Regions from separate parts of the Homo sapiens genome. Here regions 2, 3, 4, 5, 6 and 7 are each reported to be linked to region 1. The links are microRNA targets in miRTarBase. Many come from high-throughput screens and were not tested one by one. Region 1 holds a microRNA gene; each other region holds the end of a gene's coding sequence.

Evidence for each region. The annotated mature microRNA hsa-miR-3927-3p reads CAGGUAGAUAUUUGAUAGGCAU and lies in region 1 at 1,414-1,435, opposite strand. An mRNA with a match to its seed (bases 2 to 7 or 8) in the 3' UTR can be bound and repressed. Matches are read on the target gene's strand: a 7mer-m8 pairs with bases 2 to 8, a 7mer-A1 pairs with bases 2 to 7 and ends in A, and an 8mer does both.
Region 2: the mRNA of MED10 is a reported target of hsa-miR-3927-3p. Seed matches in the 3' UTR shown: 8mer at 498-505.
Region 3: the mRNA of DYNLL1 is a reported target of hsa-miR-3927-3p. The part of its 3' UTR that is shown has no 7-base or 8-base seed match.
Region 4: miRTarBase lists ZNF562 as a target of hsa-miR-3927-3p. Seed matches in the 3' UTR shown: 7mer-m8 at 2,188-2,194.
Region 5: miRTarBase lists YAE1 as a target of hsa-miR-3927-3p. The part of its 3' UTR that is shown has no 7-base or 8-base seed match.
Region 6: the mRNA of DNAH9 is a reported target of hsa-miR-3927-3p. The part of its 3' UTR that is shown has no 7-base or 8-base seed match.
Region 7: miRTarBase lists GABPB1 as a target of hsa-miR-3927-3p. The part of its 3' UTR that is shown has no 7-base or 8-base seed match.

Annotation. Positions count from the first base shown.
Region 1 is chr9:109,510,067-109,513,149 of GRCh38, forward strand. It overlaps MIR3927 (microRNA 3927), which reads right to left and starts at 1,479; the gene lies at 1,409-1,479. It also overlaps a transcript of PTPN3 not described here.
Region 2 is chr5:6,369,591-6,372,661 of GRCh38, reverse strand. MED10 (mediator complex subunit 10) reads left to right here. Exons shown (of 4, transcript NM_032286.3): 4 at 61-788. The coding sequence ends at 159. Among named protein-coding and RNA genes, the nearest start is that of MED10, 7.4 kb to the left of the region's middle.
Region 3 is chr12:120,497,973-120,501,041 of GRCh38, reverse strand. It overlaps DYNLL1 (dynein light chain LC8-type 1), which reads right to left. Exons shown (of 3, transcript NM_003746.3): 3 at 2,549-2,969. The coding sequence ends at 2,832. Among named protein-coding and RNA genes, the nearest start is that of DYNLL1, 3.4 kb to the right of the region's middle.
Region 4 is chr19:9,650,447-9,653,529 of GRCh38, reverse strand. It overlaps ZNF562 (zinc finger protein 562), which reads left to right. Exons shown (of 6, transcript NM_001130031.2): 6 at 1-3,083. The coding sequence ends at 581. Among named protein-coding and RNA genes, the nearest start is that of ZNF562, 23 kb to the left of the region's middle.
Region 5 is chr7:39,572,265-39,575,347 of GRCh38, forward strand. YAE1 (YAE1 maturation factor of ABCE1) reads left to right here. Exons shown (of 3, transcript NM_020192.5): 3 at 13-617. The coding sequence ends at 442. Among named protein-coding and RNA genes, the nearest start is that of YAE1, 7.4 kb to the left of the region's middle. RefSeq lists a silencer at 2,493-2,693.
Region 6 is chr17:11,969,124-11,972,191 of GRCh38, forward strand. DNAH9 (dynein axonemal heavy chain 9) reads left to right here. Exons shown (of 69, transcript NM_001372.4): 69 at 177-625. The coding sequence ends at 404. Among named protein-coding and RNA genes, the nearest start is that of ZNF18, 27 kb to the right of the region's middle.
Region 7 is chr15:50,275,773-50,278,855 of GRCh38, reverse strand. It overlaps GABPB1 (GA binding protein transcription factor subunit beta 1), which reads left to right. Exons shown (of 9, transcript NM_016654.5): 9 at 72-3,083. The coding sequence ends at 224. Among named protein-coding and RNA genes, the nearest start is that of HDC, 12 kb to the right of the region's middle.

The DNA of each region.
Region 1 (3,083 bases):
GCAGCAGAGGGAAGTGTTGGTCCCATTCAGGAGGGAAAATATCTCTTTAGCTATTTATTAGGAAACATTGAAGTAATCTTAAAAACTGTGCTATATAAAGAAAAGATATGAACCCCATCTATTCAATGGAAAAATCCAAATGCAGATAAAGGCTTATGAACAGAAATGAGTCATTATAGCACTGCTGATAATTGCCAAAAAATATGTAACAGCTGGGCGTGGTGGCTCACACTTGTAATCCTAGCACTTTGGGAGGCCAAGGCGGGCAGATCACCTGAGGTCGGGAATTCGAGACCAGCCTGACCAACATGGAGAAACCCTGTCTCTACTAAAACTACAAAATTAGCCAGGTGTGGTGGTGCATGCCTGTAATTCCAGCTACTCAGGAGGCTGAGGCAGGAGAATCCCTTGAACCCCGGAGGCAGAGGTTGCATTGAGCCGAGATTGCGCCATTGCACTCCAGCCTGGGCAACAAGAGCGAAACTTTGTCTTAAAAAAAAAAAAAAAAAAATATATATATATATATATATATATATATATATGAAACAAGCAACTGTATGATTATGAAATAGTATGTCTCACTGATTGTTATATAACTCAAAATTATTTTACGAGGAGATTGTAATCACGTGGGAAAATGCTAGCACTAGTGATAATGCTAGTGATTCAACTCCTGTTGAATCACTGCATTATTTTAAGATAGTGGTTCTCAAACTCCAGCATTCAAAGAGTGTAAGACAGAAAGCTGTATTGCTGGCCTAATTCTGTAAAGAAGAACACATTTATGAGCAAAAATGTGAAAGCAAATGTGCTAAAAGGTTTTTCTAGATAATGCTATGACTAGTGATTTTAATTTTCGTTTTTGTATTTTTAAAACTTCTACAACATATATGTGTTATTCCAAAAATCAAAAAGAAACATTAAAAAAATCCATGTAATCAATATCAAACACAAAACTTTAACTTTGCTCCCAGCAACAAATACATAAAATATTTAGGGGCATATTTTTATATCAAGGTGATTAAAGCACTGACCATGGGAATTTTATGACTATCCTATGGGAGGTTCAGCCATGGTGCTTAAGATACCCCTAGTGTCCTTCTCATCTCCTTTACACCAGCTCTGCTTGCAATCCTGCTGAGTCCTAAAATCCCCATGAGTAGGGGTGACTGTGAGCCATGGACGTGCTTAGCAAGACCAATTGGATTCCTTCACCTAGGAGTTTAAACTAGAGAACAGTGGGGAAGTGAGAAGATACACAAAGAGATGCCAGGTTCAAGGGGCAGCCACAGTAACTTTGACAGAATGCAGTGATCCCCAAAGAAGTGACTCTCTGGTGTCTACACTCCTGTGAATTCCCCTTTCATGCTGAGGCTGAGCATGGCCATAGGACTTCGTTTTGCCAGTGTGCCAATGCCTATCAAATATCTACCTGCCATGTTTGTCATAGGACAGGCAGATATGTGATAGGCATTGGCATATTGGGGTTGGCCCTCTTGGAAACCTGAAACCACCATGCCCTAAGAAGCCTGAGATGAACAACTTCATGGAGAGGGGCCCAGCCAGGCCAGGTTTATCTCAGTCGAACCCAGAGCAGACCTGTAGGAGAATCAACCAGCCAACACATTGCATCATGAGGACGGGAAAAATCATTGTCATTTTCAGCCACTAAGTTTTAGCAGTGTTTTGTTACCAGCAATGGATAACTGAGGCAGTCCCAATAGGAACTTTGGTTGAATCCCTGTATTATTTTAAGATAGTGGTTCTCAAACTCCAGCATTCAAAGAGCTGGGTCAAAATTCAAGTGTCTTTAGGGGAGAGACATTGTTGGCCTCATTTGCCTTTATATCCCAGTTCCTGGAATGGTGTTTATCACATACCTAGACCTGAAGAAATATTTGTAAATAAATGAACAAATGGATCTTGGGAGTTTGTTTAAAATATGCCCACCTCTGGAGATTTCTAATTTGGTAGGTCTAATTTGGTAGGGCGAGGTCCAGGAAACTGCATCTGAGTGATGCTGAGACAGGTGGCTTGCAGACCACATTTTTATCATCAGGGCCTCAAATTATCCTTGCAACCAAAAGAGGCAATTGACCAATCTTCCACCTGGCCGTGCATCAGAATTACCTGAGGAGCTTTTTAACGATATTCCTTCCAGATTCTCACCCCTGACCTACCAAATCTGAAAACCTCTGGAGGGGGAGACTCACACTCTACATTATTAAGAAGCTCCTGGGTGCAGCTGGTGCAGCTGGTCCACAGATTGGAGGGCATTTTTGCTGGCCTAACCAACACAAGTCTCCAAAAGCCATCTGGCAGCCAAACACACTTTTCTCACTCCTGAGAAGAACACACACCTACTCAGTTAAACATTATCACACTAATCTTTAAAGCTTTTTAAAAGACAGCTTTCATTTTTACGTCAAGAAATGTTTGTTAGGGACTCCTAAATCTCAGTGTCTCATCTGTCAAACAAAATTTGGTAACACCTGCTTCCTGAATGCCATGAAGACTACATGAGGTAAGGTGTGTGACCACACATTGAAACCGGAAACACCAAGCACAGGATTTTTAAGACTTTAATCATAAGTATGACATAAAGGAGATTAAAATTGTTTATCTATTTTTAGGTAATTATTCAGGGTTCTTTAGGAGGTACCTTGTTCCTCCTTAATCAGGGAGAGACAGGCCTTTGGGACCTCCTACACAAAATGTTTCAGAGAAGGGAAACCGTGGACACATTTCTTATTCCTGCACATGGTGTTTAAAGCACTGTGTGCTCTGAACCCTGCATTACCTTGTTCTTTCCTTCCCCTGGTCCTTTTCCCTCCCTCCTCCTGCCCCTAAGTGTCAGCCCTTCCAAAACACTAATGCAGTAGGCTGGTTCACATCTTTGACTAGCCCTGGCTCAAGCTGTGTATTATATCTGAAATGTTCTTAATTCATTAATTATTATTGAAACAGGGTCTCACTCTGTTGCCCAGACTGGGGTGCAGTGGCACAAACACGGCTCACTGCAGCCTCAACCTCCTGGGTCTAAGCAATTCTCCCACCTCAGACTCCTGAGTAGCTGGGACTAC
Region 2 (3,071 bases), not on the chromosome of region 1:
TTAAATAGTTATTGGAGTGTTGATGTGAAGAGCTCCTTTGATAATGTATTTTCTTTGTAGAAATTTAAAAGCCTGTTGATTCAAGAACTTTCTAAAGTATTTCCGGAAGACATGGCTAAGTATCGAAGCATCCGGGGGGAGGATCACCCGCCTTCTTAACCAGCTCACCCTCCCTGTGTGAAGATCCCCTGGGACTGCGATGCGGCGTGAGGCTGGGACTGCGAGTGCTGACGCCACCTTCCTGCTGAGGTGGGACTGGGCCCTGGACACACCCCTCAGCCCCTCTGTCCTCATTGTTTGGCCTCATGGGACCGAGGGGCTGGAGGAGAGGCGGAGCTGTGCCCCAGCTGTTCCAGCAGCTTGTCTGGCGTCAACTGGCTTTCAGAGTGCTGACCCCTCATCACTGTGGGGATCATTCTCTCTGAGGGCAGATGAGGCGCAGGAAAATAGTCTTGGAAATGTTAAATATGATGGGTAAATTAAAAGTTTTACAACATTCTACCTAATATTTTTCTTTTAACATACTCTTTCTGTTCTATTGTATTATGGTGTCCGAAAGCTAAATAACGACTAGGAAAAATTTTTTTAAAAAAAGAAAAATCAGTTTAATGTGGGAAGTACTTAAGTGGTATTATATTTTACATTTTCAAGTATAGTGCATAAAGAATGTTTTAAATGTAACTGTTTTCATGGATTTCAATTAGACATGCCTATAATAAACTAAGTATGTGGCTTATTCCATGTAATTATTTTTGTAATATAATACAATGTGTCTTGTAAACAGTTAATTATTACTTTCCCAGAGGGTTGGTAATATTCATAAGAAAATTTGTTTTCCAGGCATTTAGGCAGGAAAAGCTAAAGCAAAATGCAGAACTCCAATTTTTTCTACAAACCTTTCCTAGCGGCTATAGTACACCAATTTATTGACACTCTGGAAAGACGCCCGGCAGGGCTGTTTCAGCTTCAGTGTGCTTACAGATCCTGAGGGGATTCTGTGAACCTGCAGGTTCGGATTCACACGTCCGTTGGGCCTTGCAAACTGCATTTTTCATGAACTGCAGGTGGTGCTGTTTCTGTGATCTGTGGGCCACCCTTGGAGTTGAGGCCCTAGTGCGGCCTGTGCGGAGGTTGACCTATAGACCCCTGTGTCCGAATGGCCTGGGCAGGCTTGTTATTAAGGTAGGGCCCCAGTTCAGACGTGTTGAGCCTCAGGCTTTAGGATGGGCCCTGGGAATCTGTGTTAATTTGCCTCCTACGAGCGATCCTGAACCAGCCTCGATCCTAGCCAGGGCTGCCGGAATAAAACACCACATTCTGGGTGGTTTGAACAACAAACATGTATTTTCCCACAGTTCTGGAGGCTGGAAGTACAAGCTCACGGTGCCTGCAGAGTGGGTTTCTCCCGAGGCCTCCCTGGCTTGCAGACCTGCTTACTTTGACCTCACGTGGTCGTTCCTCTGTGTGTGTCACAGCCCTGGTGTCTCTTCTGTGTGTCCTAACCTCTTTAGAATCTAAGAACAGCAGTTAGATGGTATTAGGACCCACCCGAAGGACCCATTTTTAACTTACTTCTTTGAAGAACCTGTCTCCAAATACAGTTGCATTCTCAGGTCCTGAGGTTAGGGCTTTGACACTGGAGTTTTGGAGGGATGCAACTCAGTCCAGAATACTCCCCAGGAGGGTCGTATTTACCAAGAGTCAGGGGCCAGGCCCCTTAGGAAGCTGGTCCCTCGCTAGCAGTTCTGTTCTCTCCAAAACAGCACCAGAAAAGGACTCCTACTGCTACCAAGGGGAAGAATTTCTGCTAGAGTAGAGGAGGCCCCTGCTGGCAGGTTCGGGTGCCTGAATCGCTGTTCCGCCTTGTTTTTCTGGCATCAGGATGCTGACTATTGGCTGCTGCACGAGGGCCATGTGGGCACGCGGCTCGCTGGGCTCTTCCCACACACTTCACCTGCATCAACTCACCTGGCCCTCACCAGCCCTGTGAGGTCCGGCTTTCTTTATATTACTGATGTTGAAGCTGGGGCACCAGGGCTTAACGTGCCCGAAGCCCTGCAGCTTCGCCTCCCTCTGTGCTGGTTCTGGGTGGGTCCAAAGTGTCCACAGTCCCCTCTTCCTGGGCTCTGAAACATGGAGGATGTGCCGGCAGTAGGGGCTGTTCTACATATCCTGGGACTGAGTTAATCGGGTGGCCTCAAGCTGTTTTAATCTTGATGTCTGAGCCTTGGGAAGAGAGGGTGACTGTCAGCTAGAGATGCGTATCTGGTAGCCCACAGCATGACAAGTCTGCTGACCTAGGCCCAGCAGGGGCGGTGTAGCTGTCACACATTATTCTGGAATATTCACCAGTCTTTTTTTGAGTAAAAGTTTGGGTATATGGATGCACTGCCTTGGAACTCCTAACTTTCATCAGTGTGTCTGATGACACCACCACAGTGGGTCCCCAGGCAATGAAGAGGTGTTGGAGCCCCTCGACACTGTGACAGGCCACATGCCCCTTAATTCCACCCCACCTGCCATTACTGTTAGTCACAAGTGCCCATCACTTTCAAATCTCCTGAAATGCTGAGGAATCTACTTAGCTCGGAATTGATGTCAGTGTGAGAGGACTGGAGGGTTCCAGGCCGCGTTTGACACTCGGCGAGGCATGCTGTGACTGTCACTGACACTGCCTTCCAGAGCTCTCCACCCGGAGGAGCTTGGGTTCAGGTGCACACACCTGGCTGGCCCTTCATCCCTTCTTCTCAAAGACCTCATTTTGGTTAAAAGAATGATTGCGAGAGTCATCCTGGGACGGTATCAGCCATTTCGATCAGCTGCTTCACATCACCCCTGCCCATTGCCACCCAGTTCGTTCCAATCCCTGCTTTGCTTCTGACCTCTTCTTCCCCACCCCTTTCTTCCTGCAGACACAGATCGGGCAAACAGCCCCAGGGCCTACTGATTTTTGTTATGCCCAAGGACACCGCTGAACCACCACGAGGCAGGTATGGACTCAAACAGGGCCTGAGCCTGTGTCACTGTTCTAGATAATCTGTGCTGCCTCTGTGGGTCAGAATGAAAAAGCG
Region 3 (3,069 bases), not on the chromosome of region 1:
ACGCTGCTTCCTGACCCAGCACAGTAAGGATCATTTACGTGCCTTCACTTACAAGATCTTGCCCTGTCACTAAAAAGCTTCTAGATAGAGCTAGCTATATACAACTCTCTCAAAGAACAGCAGCTAAGAGCATTTGATAAATGCTTAGAAAAACTTAGCTTACATTTTCTTTTCAGCCAGCTGGAGCCTATTGGCTTTTGAAATTAACAGGAAGGAACAGGCACTGGAAGGAGCTTCATAAACCATCAACCCAGTCTTATCTCCATAGCAACATGGTTTTCTCACATCTGAATAAAAAAACAAAAAAGCTGCCAACTTGACAGTAAATATGGGACAGATCATATTCAACTAAAACTCCCAGTGTCTAGCTATCAGTCTTGAATCAGCTTTTGGGTCTGTAGCTAGAGACAGATCATCCGTTCTGAGTAGGGCTTAACTGGACAAACTAAAGCTTTGGAGGCCAAATTCCCTGTGGGCTTCAAATAGAAATATAGCCAGGTCACTAAAGAGGGAAAAGGGATAGAAAAAATATGAGTTAGGCCAGGTTCGGTGGCTCACACCTGTAATCCCAGCACTTTGGGAGGCCGAGGTGGGCAGATCACGAGGTCAGGAGATCGAGACCATCCTGGCTAACATGGTGAAACCGTCTCTACTAAAAGTACAAAAAAAATTAGCCTTGCGTGGTGGTGGGTGCCTGTAGTCCCAGCTACTCGGGAGGCTGAGGAAGGAGAATGGTGTGAACCTGGGAGGCGGAGCTTTCAGTGAGCCGAGATCGCGCCACTGTACTCCAGCCTGGGCGACAGTGAGACTCCGTCTCAAAAAAAAAAAAAAAAGAAAAAATATGAATTAAACCGGGTGTGGTGGCTCGTACCTGTAATCCCAACACCTTGGGAGGATTGCTTGAGCCCAGGAATTCAAGACCAGCCTGGGCAACACAGGGAGACTCCAGCTCTACAAAAAATTCAAAAGTTAGCTAGGCATGGTGGCATGTACTTATGGTCCCAGTTACTTTGGAGGCTGAGGTGGCAGGATCACTTGGGCCCAGGAGGTTGAAGTTGCAGTGGGCTATGATCACACCACTGCACTCCAGCCTGGGCAATAGGAGTCTCAAAAAAAATGAAAGTTAGAAAAAAGGAACATTTTCGGTCTGTTTATATAAATACAAACATAAAATTACCCCAGTTGCAGTCTCCTGTTTATTCCACAGTACCTCATCCTTTTTTGCAGACAGCAGGGAAAAAACTGGCACAATAGTCAAAATTGCCAGGTTTGGTGGCTCACGCCTGTAATCCCAGCACTTTGGGAGGCAGAAGTGGGCAGATTACCTGAGGTCAGGAGTTCGAGACTAGCCTGACCAATATGGTGAAACCCCATCTCTACTAAGAATACAAAATTAGCCGGGCATGGTGGCACATGCCTGTAATCCCAGCTACTTGGGAAGCTGAGGCAGGAGACTTGCTTGAACCCAGGAGGCAGAGGTTGCAGTGAGCTGAGATCACGCCATTGCACTCCAGCTTGGGCAACAAGAGCGAAACTCTGTCTTAAAAAAGTCAAAATCTTGCACCTCTACCCTGAAACCCTTCCAATCCTAAAGTAGCACAACTTTGCTAGGATTCTTAAAACCACACATTCTGAAGAAAAATAAACTTCCAAATATGTTACTGACCTAATTCTACTCTTACAATGGGAGTTATCACCCATCAATTCCAATCTATCGCCCTCTTCTGTGTAGCAGTCACCTAGCTGCTTAGAAATCCCAATGGCATCTTAGAGATCCATGGGAAAACATAGGCTAACTACAAGTCAGGACCCTTCTTGCAGTTTCCCAAGATGGGTGTGGGTTGTTCCAGCCTGTCTTATTTCCTTTCCACCTACAAGTCTGCCATATTTGCTTTTCTACGACTGCAGTCCTCTTAAAATTGATAGCAGGAAACCTCTGATAGCTACTTGTCCCCAGCTTTAATTGGGTCTTTTCAGGAAAAGGTATCAATTCACACTTGTTCCTGACCACAGCAAAGCACAGCACAGCAGGCTGATAAAGTCTTTGCAGGAATTTACATTATTAGAAGAGCATGAAAACTGCTGCTCAGAAACATTTACTTTCCCCTAAGGCCACCTTCTTTCTAGGCAGGGGAGGGGGCTAGACAAGGGTCCTGGAATCCATTTCATTATCCCAACTTTGTTTTGAGCTTATTTCCATTTTATAGCCATAGAAAGCTTCAAGTACTACTACATACACATCCATCACCACAACCTGAGGCCAAAGGCCCAGAACATTCTATAGCAATGTCTTAACAAATATCCTTAAACATTGATTTTTTTCAGATTAGGACTAAAGATTTAATTTAAATGTTTCTTTATCATGCACTGCATTTCTCAACATGCACAACAGTTGCAGGATGGGTGAGAGAATGTGACTAAAGAGTACTGAAATACCCCACAGAAACTTAACTTCTGTAAGGATGGACTCATCCCCACCAACCTGGGCATCTGATCAAGTGACCGTCTTCAACGCTGTTATTTGAACAAATTGTAATTCACACACATACACATCTGCATCAGATTTATTTTTTAAAGGAATGGATTTTGAGAGAAAACAACGTGGGCAGAAGTATGGAATAGAAAATAAATACAAATGTAGGCTATTCTGCTAATTGTTTTATAACCACGACAAACTAGTACAGAGAATGCCCTGTACAAAACACAACAAAGGTTCAAACATCGAGATGTTCCCTTAGCAAGGCTGAAAATTTCAGTCTCTGGTATTTGGAATTTAGGCTGCAGTCCTTGTTTTTGGATGGATCACTGGGTGTGTGGCACAGTCCATGCTTTTAACCAGATTTGAACAGAAGAATGGCCACTTGGCCCAGGTAGAAGTAGATGAAGTGTTTGGTTTCATGTGTCACATAACTACCGAAGTTCCTCCCCACGATGCAATGCCAGGTGGGATTGTACTTCTTGTCAAATTCCTGGAAAAGACAAAAGAAAAGAACTAGGATTTTAATTACCAGAGGTCAGTGTTTGCCTCTTGGATAAGCCAGAGCCTGTAGGGGCAGAAAGGAGGAACGT
Region 4 (3,083 bases), not on the chromosome of region 1:
TTCAGGAATGTGAGAGAGCCATCACAACTTCCTCACACTTAAAGCAGTGTGTAGCAGTTCATACTGGAAAGAAATCCGAAAAGACTAAGAACTGTGGGAAATCCTTCACTAATTTTTCTCAACTTTCTGCACATGCAAAAACTCATAAAGGAGAGAAGTCCTTTGAATGTAAAGAATGTGGAAGATCCTTTAGAAATTCCTCATCCTTTAATGTTCACATTCAAATTCACACTGGAATAAAACCACACAAATGTACGGAATGTGGGAAAGCCTTCACTAGATCAACTCACCTTACTCAACATGTAAGAACTCACACTGGAATAAAACCCTATGAATGTAAGGAATGTGGCCAAGCCTTCACTCAGTACACGGGCCTTGCTATACACATACGAAATCACACTGGAGAGAAACCCTATCAGTGTAAGGAATGTGGGAAAGCCTTCAATAGATCTTCAACGCTTACTCAACATAGAAGAATTCACACAGGAGAGAAGCCTTATGAATGTGTTGAATGTGGGAAGACCTTCATTACTTCTTCCCATCGTAGTAAACATTTGAAAACTCACAGTGGAGAAAGGTAAATGCAAGATATGTGGGAAAGAATTTCTGTATTCCTCACCCCACCTGTGAACTCCTACCAGAGAGAAACCTTTTGTATGTAAAGAATTTGGGAAAGCATTTGCTCTTTCCTCATGCCTAAGTATGCATGAAAGAATTCACACTGGGGAGAAATACTATGAATGTAAGGATATGAGTGTTGTTACCATTTAGCCCATTGGTTGCCATCTTTAATTATTGGCAGTGCAAAGATCATCAGATTAGTCCTAAATGCCTTTTGGAGGTTGTAATGGCTCACAGATTGGCCTTAGATGCATCCCGAGGGTCTGAAATTAAACCTACAGGTTCTGAATACAACATCATGGTTACCTGAGTCTGGGCATCTGTGAAGAAGGGTCATGGATGGTGAGGTCAGTACTGCAGGCTGCCTCACCTTGGTGATTAGATTCCTAAGATCATAGCATTAACAAGTTCTGTACGAGATAAATCATGCAGATTGATCCCAGCCCCTGTTGGTTAGTGGCTGCCAGTGTGGCACATTCATGTCAAAATTTACCAGAAGCCAAGATGATGTAGGCCCCAGAGGTGGATTGTTAAAAAGATGCTCCTCCAAGGTTCTCTTCTGTTCCCATGGATCCTGCAGAGCATGTCAGGAGTGAAACCATCCATAACTGCCAGTGCCCTTTCACAGCTGATTATTTCTATGTCCCCTTCTTGTAAAATAAGAAGTGTGACAACCTTGACTGTTCTGTTCTGTCTTCTCTGTCCATTTTAGGTGGCACAATGTAAGTGGCAGTGTCTCTTATAGTATAATCCAGTCTCTCTTCTCACTTCTGTTAAGATGGCTGATATAGTCCATGAATCCCACTCATGATCTCTTTATCAAATGATTGTTCAGCCACACTTTGAGGATTCTCTTCAGTACAAGTTTTCTAATTTTTGCAGTATGGATAGGCTGAGAATTTTCCAAATCTCCAAGTTCTGGTTCCTTTTTCCTTAACAATTTCTTCTGCAATTCAGGTCTCCTTTTGCATTTTTGCCGAGACCAGCTGGGTCGTGGAGACCCTAACCCAGTGGCTCTAGAGGAATTAAGACAAAGACACAGAAATATAGTGCAGAGTGGGAATCGGGGCTCACAGCCTTCAGAGCTGAGCTTGAACAGAGTTTGACCCACATATTTATTGACAGTAAGCCTGTGATAAACATTATTCCTATAGATTGTAGATCAGCTATAAGTATTCCTTATGAGAAAGAAAGGGACAGGCTCTGGCTTGTTATCTGCAACAGGAATATGTCCTTAAGGCACAAATCACTCATGCTATTGTTTGTGGTTTAGGAATGCCTTGAGCAGTTTTCCAGTTTTCTGCCCTGGGTGGGCCAGGTGTTGCTTGCCCTCATTCTGGTAAACCAGCAGCCTCCAGCATGGGCGTCATAGCCATCACGAGCATGTCACAGTGCTGCAGAGATTTTGTTTATGGCCAGTTTCTCATTGCCTGTTTATGGCCAGATTTGGGGGGCCTGTTCCCAGCACATTTTCCTGTAAGCACTCAGGAATAATGAAGCTTCCTGTGTCCTTTAACACTTTAATTACAGATCTTAGTGATACATACCATTTTATCTGTCTCAAGCTCTACCTTCCGTAAAATGCTAGAATACAGTTCTGCCAAGTTCTTCACCACTTTATATCAAGGGTTGTCTTTTCTTCATTTCCCAATAGCATGTTCCTCATTCCCCAATGACACCTCACCAGAATAACCCTTACCAACCTTATTTCCAGCTTGCACATCAGAATTTTTCCAGCCTCTACTCATTTGTCAGTTTCAAAGCTGCTTCACATTTTTAGTTTTTTTGTTTGTTTTTAATTGCAGTACCTCACTTCTCAGTACCAATATCTGCCTTAGTCAGCTCAGACAACCATAAGAGAATACCGCAGACCAAATGGCTTAGAAATTAATTTAATTTTAAATCAATGAGGTTAAAAACACAGGATTTTTTTTTTTTTTTTTTTTTTTTTTTTGAGATGGAGTTTTGCTCTTGTTGCCCAGGCTGGAGTGCAATGGTATGATCTTGGCTCACCGCAACCTCCACCTCCTGAGTTCCAGTGATTCTCCTGCCTCACCCTCAGTAGCTGGGATTATTGGCATGCACCACAAACCTTAGCTAAGTTTGTATTTTTAGTAGAGACAGGGTTTCTCCATGTTGGTTAGGCTGATCTCCATGTTGGTCAGATCTGACCTTTGGTGATCCACCTGCCTTGGCCTCCCAAAGTGCTGGGATTACAGGCCTGAGCCACCGTATCTGGCCCAAAACACAAATTTATATTCTCACATATCTGGAGGCTGGAAGTCTGAGATCAGAGTGCCAGCATGGTCAACCTCTAGTGAGAGCTCTCTTCCTGGCATGTAAGTGCCCACTTCCTCATGTTTTCACACGATGGAGACCAACAAATAGGTCGGTCGGTCTCCCCCCTCCCCGCCCCCTTCTCTTTTCACATACAGTCACATTGAGGTTTGGAACTTCATATG
Region 5 (3,083 bases), not on the chromosome of region 1:
ACTTTTGTTCAGTGCTTTGCTCTCCTGGTGTCACCTTCATAATAATAATTCAACTTTGATCAATAAAATAAACAATCTTCTGGATGCAGTTGGCCAGTGTGAAGAGTATGTGCTCAAACATCTGAAATCAATCACTCCACCGTCCCATGTTGTAGATTTATTGGACTCCATTGAGGATATGGACCTTTGTCATGTAGTTCCAGCTGAGAAAAAGATTGATGAAGCTAAAGATGAAAGACTCTGTGAAAATAATGCTGAGTTTAACAAAAACTGTAGCAAGAGCCATAGTGGGATAGATTGTTCATATGTAGAATGTTGTAGAACACAGGAGCATGCACATTCAGAAAACCCAAGCCCCACATGGATTTTGGAACAGACAGCCAGTTTAGTTAAACAGCTGGGCCTATCAGTAGATGTATTACAACACCTCAAACAACTATAAAATTACCTTCCCTTTTCTAATGAAAATAATGTTCAGAACATTTGGTTTCCTAACAATCGAAATTTGTACTGGTTTCTGCATCAAACACCTCAACTGTAGGGTTACCCTTTATGGAAGTTTGAAATTAACACTATTGTCTTCAAAATTAACACTATTAAATGTAATATAAGCCTTTTTTCTTTGTCACTGGTAATTTTTATGTAGTTTTAAGATATGGTCAGAAATTTCTACTGTCATTGACATTTCCAAACTTGTGGTCAAAATGAAGTGTTTTCAGACTCATTAGCAAAAGTGAACAAGAATTAAACATATTTTGTAAGGACCTACCCCTACTTCTACCTCCTGTCACTATTAGGTGGTCAGGACCTCACCAAACCAAAGTTATAAAAATAACTTAATAGTTAACGTAAATATAGACACACAGACAGATATATAGATATAGATATGTAGATATATATTGAAATTAAGAGACTGTGAGAAACTGAAGCAGTGTTTATGCTGTTGATTAAATGGTTAACAGCAAAATACTAAAATGTGTTTTAGTTTTGTGTTAATTAAAAGTAAGGACATTCAGTTTTATGAAAAACATAGAAAATATATTTTATGCTAAAGTCTAAGGAAAATGCCTACTTAGTTTTTCTAAGTAGTAAGGAGTTAGTAATATTGCCTAACAGTGTGCCAGATTATTTTAAACTGCAGTATATTTCATATTCACATAGGAGTAAAACACTGAAACCACTGACTTCTATATTACCTTGAGGTAATATTCTTAGTCTAGCATGGACAAAATTAGATTCAAATTTTTACTCCAGGATCTAAACTCAGAATCAGGAGAGGATTTCTCAGCACTTTTATTCACCTGAAACACAAGTTTATATGAGATACCTGACTTCAAAGGCACTGAAATAATTGTCCCTCATTGGTAGCCTTAATTGCTCTTTCACCCCTATTTATACCTACCATCTAAGCTGAAAGACAGGCATATTGAGATGAAGAATCTGACAAAGTATATCTTTTCAAGAGATTAAAAATGTACACTGTACTATGACCCTCCTCAAAGTTCACAGAAGAACATTAAGAAATTGAAGCAACAGATTTAAAATCAGAAAGCCATATTGAGTTTCAGGATTTATTAAAACCCCCGCTGAAGATACCAGTGCCATTTGACAGCTGGCTAAAAAAAGCTCTTCGATCTCTCCAGGTGTGAAGACTGTTTTTCAGAGATTTACTAGTTTGTCTTGTTAATATATGTTTCCATGTTTATGGACACAGCCCAAATCTCAACTCCACATGGAATATGGGTATTATAAGCAGCCTCTAAAGTCTTTTTAATGTTGCTGTGCCGTGCATATACATATGAAATACCTCTAAGGATGCATCTCAAGGCCACCCTAAGTAAAAATGTCATGGGTGTGGTAAATCTTGAGATTTTTATCTAGGCTTTTCCTGATAAGATTCCCTGAAGATAACACCCATTGCCACCATTGGCTACATATGGTGTGTTTGTACAGATTTTTGTCGAAAATGAAATCAGGAGAATTAGCTAGTTGAGACTATTGGATTGAAAACATCTCTCGAACTTGTTTTGCCTTTTAAAAAGTACAGAAGGGGCCAGGCACAGTGGCTCACACCTGTAATCTCAACACTTTGGGAGGTGAAGACAGGAGGATCACTTGAGTCCAAGAGTTCAAGACCAGGCTGGGCAACATAGTGAGACTTTGTCTCTAGTAAAATGAAAAAAATCCGCTGGGTGCAGTGGCTCATGCCTGTAATCCTAACACTCTGGGAGGCCAAAGCAGGTGGATTGCCTGACCTCAGGAGTTCAAGACCAGCCTGGGCAACATGGTGAAACCCCGTCTCTGCTAAAATACAAAAAATGAGCCAGGCATGGTGGTGCATGCCTGTAATCCCAGCTACTGGGGAGGCTGAGGCACAAGGATTGCTTGAGCCTAGGAAGCGGAGGTTGCAGTGAGCCAAGATTGTGCCACTACTCTCCAGCCTGGGTGACAGAGCAAGACTCTGTCTCCAAAAAAAAAAAAAAAAAAAAAATCCGACAGCCATGGTGTTAAGTCCCTGTAGTCTTCGCTACTTGGGAAGCTGAGCTGGGAGGATCACTTGAGTGCAGAAGGTTGAGGCTGCAGTGAGATAAGATCACCCCACTCTACTTCAGCCTGAGTAACAGAGCAATACCCTGTCTCTAAAAACATGAAATACAGAAGTTCCTGGACTGCAGAGGAATGTTAATGGCATGCTGATTCTACCTGTGTTCCATGAACATGAGCCTCTGTACTAGAACCAAGAATGAAGGGAAAGAGCTTACTGGCCTTGGGTCTCTTGCCTTGCCTCACATGTTGTAGGTCTGCCAGGTCTTCCCATGAGAATACCCTGCATGAGCATAAATGAAAAATGGTAAAGCAAGATTGCCCCAGAGCTGGCACAGCCAGAGTTTCAAGGCCCAGAACCCAGACATTAGACTGAGTGGTGTGGCTTCCTTAGAAACAAATTTCATCTAAAATAAGTTACTTCTGGGTGCTAATATATCTGAGGTTTTTAAAAAGGGTGATAAGGAAGCCCACAGAACCACACTTTTCTGACATTTTAGTTACTAGAACTGCTGAGGCCACCAAAAATGTTGTGATAT
Region 6 (3,068 bases), not on the chromosome of region 1:
TTCTACATATCAGATGCATTCCATCAAAGGCTGCTGAGAAAACCTGGAAGGGGGCAGGCATAAAGGCAGCCATGTCAGTCCAGTCTTTCCTCCCTTGGATCTGCTGACAAGAGCAAGGCTGGTTGGCTGGGCTCTGGGTCTGATCTAAGGTGCCTCTTCTCATGTTTTATCCTCAGGCTGGGATCATTACAGAGGCAAAGCTGAAGGATCTGACACCCCCTATGCCTGTGATGTTCATCAAGGCCATTCCTGCAGATAAGCAGGACTGCCGCAGTGTCTATTCCTGTCCTGTGTACAAGACTAGTCAGCGGGGACCCACCTACGTGTGGACTTTCAACCTGAAGACTAAGGAAAACCCATCCAAGTGGGTTCTGGCTGGAGTAGCCTTGCTTCTCCAGATTTAGCATCCTGCAGAGCCACCGAGAAAATAAAAAAGCTGGGCTTGGAGGCTGCCTAGAGGGACAGGTGGGTGAAGGGTCACCACAGACACTTAGAACGGTAAGAAACCATGAGCACTCACAATTCTGTAGAATTCCTCTAGGGAACTTGGAGAGGTGTGCCTAAGGTGAGGCTGAGCTGAAGGAATGTGGGCCCAGGTTTCTTAATAAAATGATTTACTCTTCAACTGTGTCTGGCCCAGGATTTGAGAGCTGCTGAATCATAAATGATCATGTAGAGACCAAGAGAAACAAACCACAAGGGCCCTGACCTTGTTACACAACACTATCCTAGGTGCTCTTCTTCCAGGCTACCCCACGCAGTCCTTGGACCAGTGGTATTGGCATCACCCATGAACCAGAATCTCCATTTTAACAATCTCTCTGGAAAATCTGTATGCACATTATAGTTTGAGAAACACTATCCTGGAGCAGGGGTCACCAACATTTTTCCATAAAGAGCCAGTTAGTGAATACTTTTAGTGATTTACAGGCCACAATGCCTCTGTTTGAACTTTGCAACTTTGCCGTGGTAGACCAACAGTAACCATAAATGATGAGTAAATGAAGGGGTGTGATTGCATTCTAACAAATTTTATTTACAAAAACAAGCAATGGGCCATATTTTGCTGATCCCTGCTGTAGAGGATAAGGGATGTGTATACTGATATTTATCCTTCATTAATTCATGCATCCACTCAATACATTTTAATCTGACACCTACTATTTGTTGTGGATACAATGTGAACAAGCAAACAGGAAGTATCTCCATCATCCTTTCGATCATTTAAGAGGAAGCCAAGAAGAAATCTTTACTGTAAAGCCTTTTTTTTTTTTTTGAGATGGAGTCTCGCTCTGTCACCCAGGGTGGAGTGCACTGGGGCAATCTCTGCTCACTGCAACCTCTACCTCCTGGGTTCAAGCGATTCTCCTGCCTCAGCCTCCCAACTAGCTGGGATTACAGGCGCCTGCCAACATGCCTGGCTAATTTTTATATTTTTGGTAGAGACAGGGTTCCACCATGTTGGTCAGGCTGATCTTGAACTCCTGACCTCAGGTGATGTGCCTGCCTCAGCCTCCCAAAGTGCTGGGATTACAGGCGTGAGCCACCGCGCCTGGCCATTCTAAAGCTTTTTAATCTAAAAGTTTTCTAGATTTACCTCCGTGGAACAAATTTTCACTGGAAGTCCAATGGGTTTAACAGTTTTGATGAGTTTTAAAAAGCTCTATGAGGCAGCTTGTTTGGTAAGAAAAGTATGGGAGGACCCAGTATTCCTTCTGTGATTATTCCCTCCTAACCTTGCAGAAACTTAATTTTGTGATTACTGTTTTGAACAGTGGTTCTTAAACTTGAACAGGCATCAGAATCCCCTGGAGGGCTTGTTAAAACAAAGATTACTGGGACCCGCCCTTCAATATTTCTGATTCAGTAAGTTTAAACAAATTGCCAATGCTGCTGGTCTGGAGGCCAGTTTGAGAACTCGTGATTTAAAACCTCAAATCCCATCATCCTATAAATCTCTGCTATATAGAATATGGAATCTGATGCTAATTCCTCTATGATTTTCCTGCTTTCTTCCTTGCAGTTCCTGCACCCCCTAAGTGGGGCCTTCTCATCTTCATGATACAAGGGAGTTAATAAATTTTACTGCTGGAAGCCAGGACCTCCAGCTTGGGTGTTGTCCCTCCTCTCCCATCAACTAGTAATGCACTTGCAGTTTCCTGACTATAGGTTAATCTGTTTTCAGGGAGATAACTCTGTCCACATTAGCATCATCCTTCCTGAGCCTCACCCATAGTAGTATAATAACATCAGGCAGGCCGGGCACAGCGGCTCATGCCTGTAATCCCAGCAATTTGGGAGGCTGAGGCAGGCGGATGACAAGGTCAGGAGATCAAGACCATCCTGGCCAACATGGTGAAACCCCGTCTCTACTAATACAAAAATTAGCTGAGTTTGGTGGTGCGTGCCTGTAATCCCAGCTACTCGGGAGGCTGAGGCAGGAGAATTGCTTGAACCAGGGAGTCGGAGGTTGCAGTGAGCCGAAATCACGCCACTGCACCACTGCATTCCAGCCTGGCGACAAAGCAAGACTCTGTCTCACCAAAAAAAAAAAAAAAAAAAAAAAATCAGGCCTAAAGAAGGAGGTGGAAGATGGTGGGAGGTGGAAGATGGTGGGAGGGGGAAGTCTCACTGTCAGGCCTCTGAGCCCAAGCCAAGCCATCGCATCTCCTGTGACTTGCACCTATACGCCCAGATGGCCTGAAGTAACTGAAGAATCACAAAAGAAGTGAAAAGGCCCTGCCCCGCCTTAACTGATGACATTCCACCATTGTGATTTGTTCCTGCCCCAACTTAACTGAATGATTAACCCTGGGAATTTCCTTCTCCTGGCTCAGAAGCTCCCCCACTGAGCACCTTGTGACCCCCGCCCCTGCCCACCAGAGAACAACCCCCTTTGACTGTAATTTTCCATTACCTTCCCAAATCCTATAAAACGGCCCCACCCCTATCTCCCTTTGCTGACTCTCTTTTCGGACTCAGCCCACCTGCACCCAGGTGAAATAAACAACCATGTTGCTCACACAAAGCCTGTTTGGTGGTCTCTTCACACGGACGCACATGAAATT
Region 7 (3,083 bases), not on the chromosome of region 1:
GATGCATGCTTATATGTATTAATAATGTATTTTTGCAAAAATTAAAAAAAAAACCCTCTTCTTTTAATTAGGAGAGAGAAGCTCTTCAGAAACAGCTGGATGAAGCAAATCGAGAAGCACAAAAATATCGACAGCAGCTCCTAAAGAAAGAACAGGAAGCAGAGGCCTACAGACAGAAGTTGGAAGCTATGACTCGTCTTCAGACTAATAAAGAAGCTGTTTAATTGAAATGAACATGTAGTTTGATTTTACTTTTGGTCAAGAAAGAATACAATCTTGAACTGTACACAACAAAGGTACAGCCATGGGAATACAGAATGATAGAAGAGACTACAGATGGATAATTGGACTTAAGCCATGAGCTCTGAGTTCTTGTAACATAAAACTTTACTTTAGAAGTTGTGAAATGTATTTAAAACTGAATTCTGTAAATAGTTTTTTTTTTTTTACAGTTCCAAATGAGTTGATAAAGATTGTTGAAGAGATCCAAAACCAGAATAAGCCACTGTTTTTGTGAATTCTTTTTGATTTTAGTACAAACCTTAATTTCTCAGAAACGGAACAGTTTTAAGGGTGATCGTTGTTGGTTAGGCCAAATGTTGTGTAATAATTATGGTGGACTGATGCTGGAATTACTCCTGTAGGTATAAACCTCTGTATGAAGAGAAGATTTCTCCCAGGAAATCTTTGTACAGCTTTAAGTTGTGTCAGATTCTCTGAAAACATTTTTTAGAAAGCAAAATTTTTATATTTGTTCAATTTCAGCTATACCCAAGTAGATTTACATGTATATGAAGCAAATATTTTTAAAAATTTCTGTTTGTACATATTCTGCATGTTTTATAATTTCAAAATGCATCACTTACATAGGTATTTCTCCCACAGAAATGATGAAAGTGACCAGAAAAAAACAAAAACAAAACCCCTTTACTCTGTAGGTCATTGAAACGAAGTAAGCTGGCAGCTGGTTTTATTGGAATGACAGTGTTCTCGGAAGGAGCAGCCTACAAGATAACTTGAATTTGCCAATTCTGCAAAATCTGTGCTTTTTTGAAAATTTAAGAGTGGGGACGTGAAACTGTATTCTGTGCCTTCCATCATGATTTCCACATGAAAGCACTTTAAGGCACTGATTTTAAGATAATGTTTTTGGAAAACCCAATGCATATGGGTTTCTGAAATATTTTATGGACTTATTTCTCCCCAGGAAATGATTCTTACGGAAAAAAATTGCTTTTGTATGTAGAACAGGAACTTTTTGTATTACAGTGATGCAATAGACATGTCTAATGTAACTTCTACTTTTCCTTTTGAAAGCTCAGTGTCTGTGCTATGACTTGCTCTCATCACAATATTGTTGAATTCCACAATGTATGGACATTAAACACTGGCAGACTGTTCACTTTTTCTTTTTTTTTTTTGGTAAAATATTACTTCAAACCCCTTTTTCTTGCTTTATTTTTCAGTGTTTTATTGCTTTATGAACTGTTTAACCCTGAAATCCCTCTAGGTTATCTATACTGTATAAAAAAGCAATTACCCTTAAAACTGTACTCTGGCCTACTTTTCTATTTTGCAATTAAATATCTTTTTCACATATGTTCATTGTAGACTTATGTTTTTATCACATCTTATTAACACATTAAAAATGTTATCCTACTGCATATTTGAGCCACCATATGAAAATATTTTATACTCTCCACAACATGACTTTAAAATTCCTGAGGTAACTCTTGAGAATTTGTTAACTCTTTCACTGGAATTACCAGTATATTTGTTAATGTAATAAAGGGGTCTATGGTCTGTCAGCCTGATGGTTACTATTGGAAGCACTTAAAAAAGAGTTTAGGGCAAATTGAAGAACTCTGTAAGGAAGAGGAAAAAGATCTTTTTCAATTTTCCACTAAATTTGACATATTTTAAGTGATCCAAAAACTAGTTTTTAAAAATGCCAGGCCATATTTTCAATAGCATGAAGTGACTTTTTCTGCAGTCCTGAAAAGTCAATAGAGAATGTTGTTTCTGGTTACTTCGGTACATTAATTTGTCATGTTAGGCAGGGTGCTGGTACCACAGCCAGGTACCCTGACATGTGGTGCTGGAGCAGAGAAGGGCCAGTGTCTTCACCCCAGAGGGCAATCACTGTAGAGTTTTGCTTTCAGACCAGGCTGGCCCTGAAAAGACTCAAGACAGTGTTGGGAACAAGTTTGTGAAAGCTAACTTAATGTCGTCTTTGACTTCCAGTCTCCTCTCCTGCTGGAGACTTTACCTGGTGCAAGAAATAATTTTGATTCCTAATAACAACAGCTGGCATAGATGGGAGAAAATAATTGGTGCTTAAAAGGAGTAAGTCTATGATAGCATCAGGTACTCAGGTATCTGTGGAGGAAGCTCACCTTTTTCAGAGTCATTGTTACATAACATAATTTCTCAATCATTTACATCTGATTTACTGTTCTGTAAAATCACTACTTAGACAAGAATTTGTAATTAAAACTTAAAATGGGTGTCTTCTTCCCTTCACTTATTTCATGCTGTTTTCAGGTGGGCTGTAAAAGCTTTGCATTCTAGTCATTCTCAATAGTGCTCTGAACAGAGGATTTAAAGAACTGACAAAAATAAAAGTATATGAAATAAAAGTTTTCAGAAATCCACATAATTGTTTCCACTACATAGTGATGGATTTGTAGTTAGCAGTCATCTGGTTGCCACATCACTGGTTAATTGTTTCCACATATGTGTGAACAAACACCTGGAGCAACCTTTCTCAACCAGGGTTCTGCAAGACAAGCCATTTAGTGTTATGGTGTAATGAATTATTTTCTTTCCTGTGCACCTAGAATCGTTCTTGTTACGTACTATCCAGACACTGAGTTCGTTAGGCATCTTGACTGCCCAATTACTTTATTCAGATTTAACACTTCCCTCTGTATAGTCCCTGGACCTCTAGAATTATAAATTCTAGACTGAATCTGTGATGCTTTCAGAAAGCCTCATCTGAGAAGTAGTATCTGCAGGGACTGTGCTTCTCAACTAATTTTCATTTATTGTTATTTATTTTATTTATATCTTAATTACTTCAC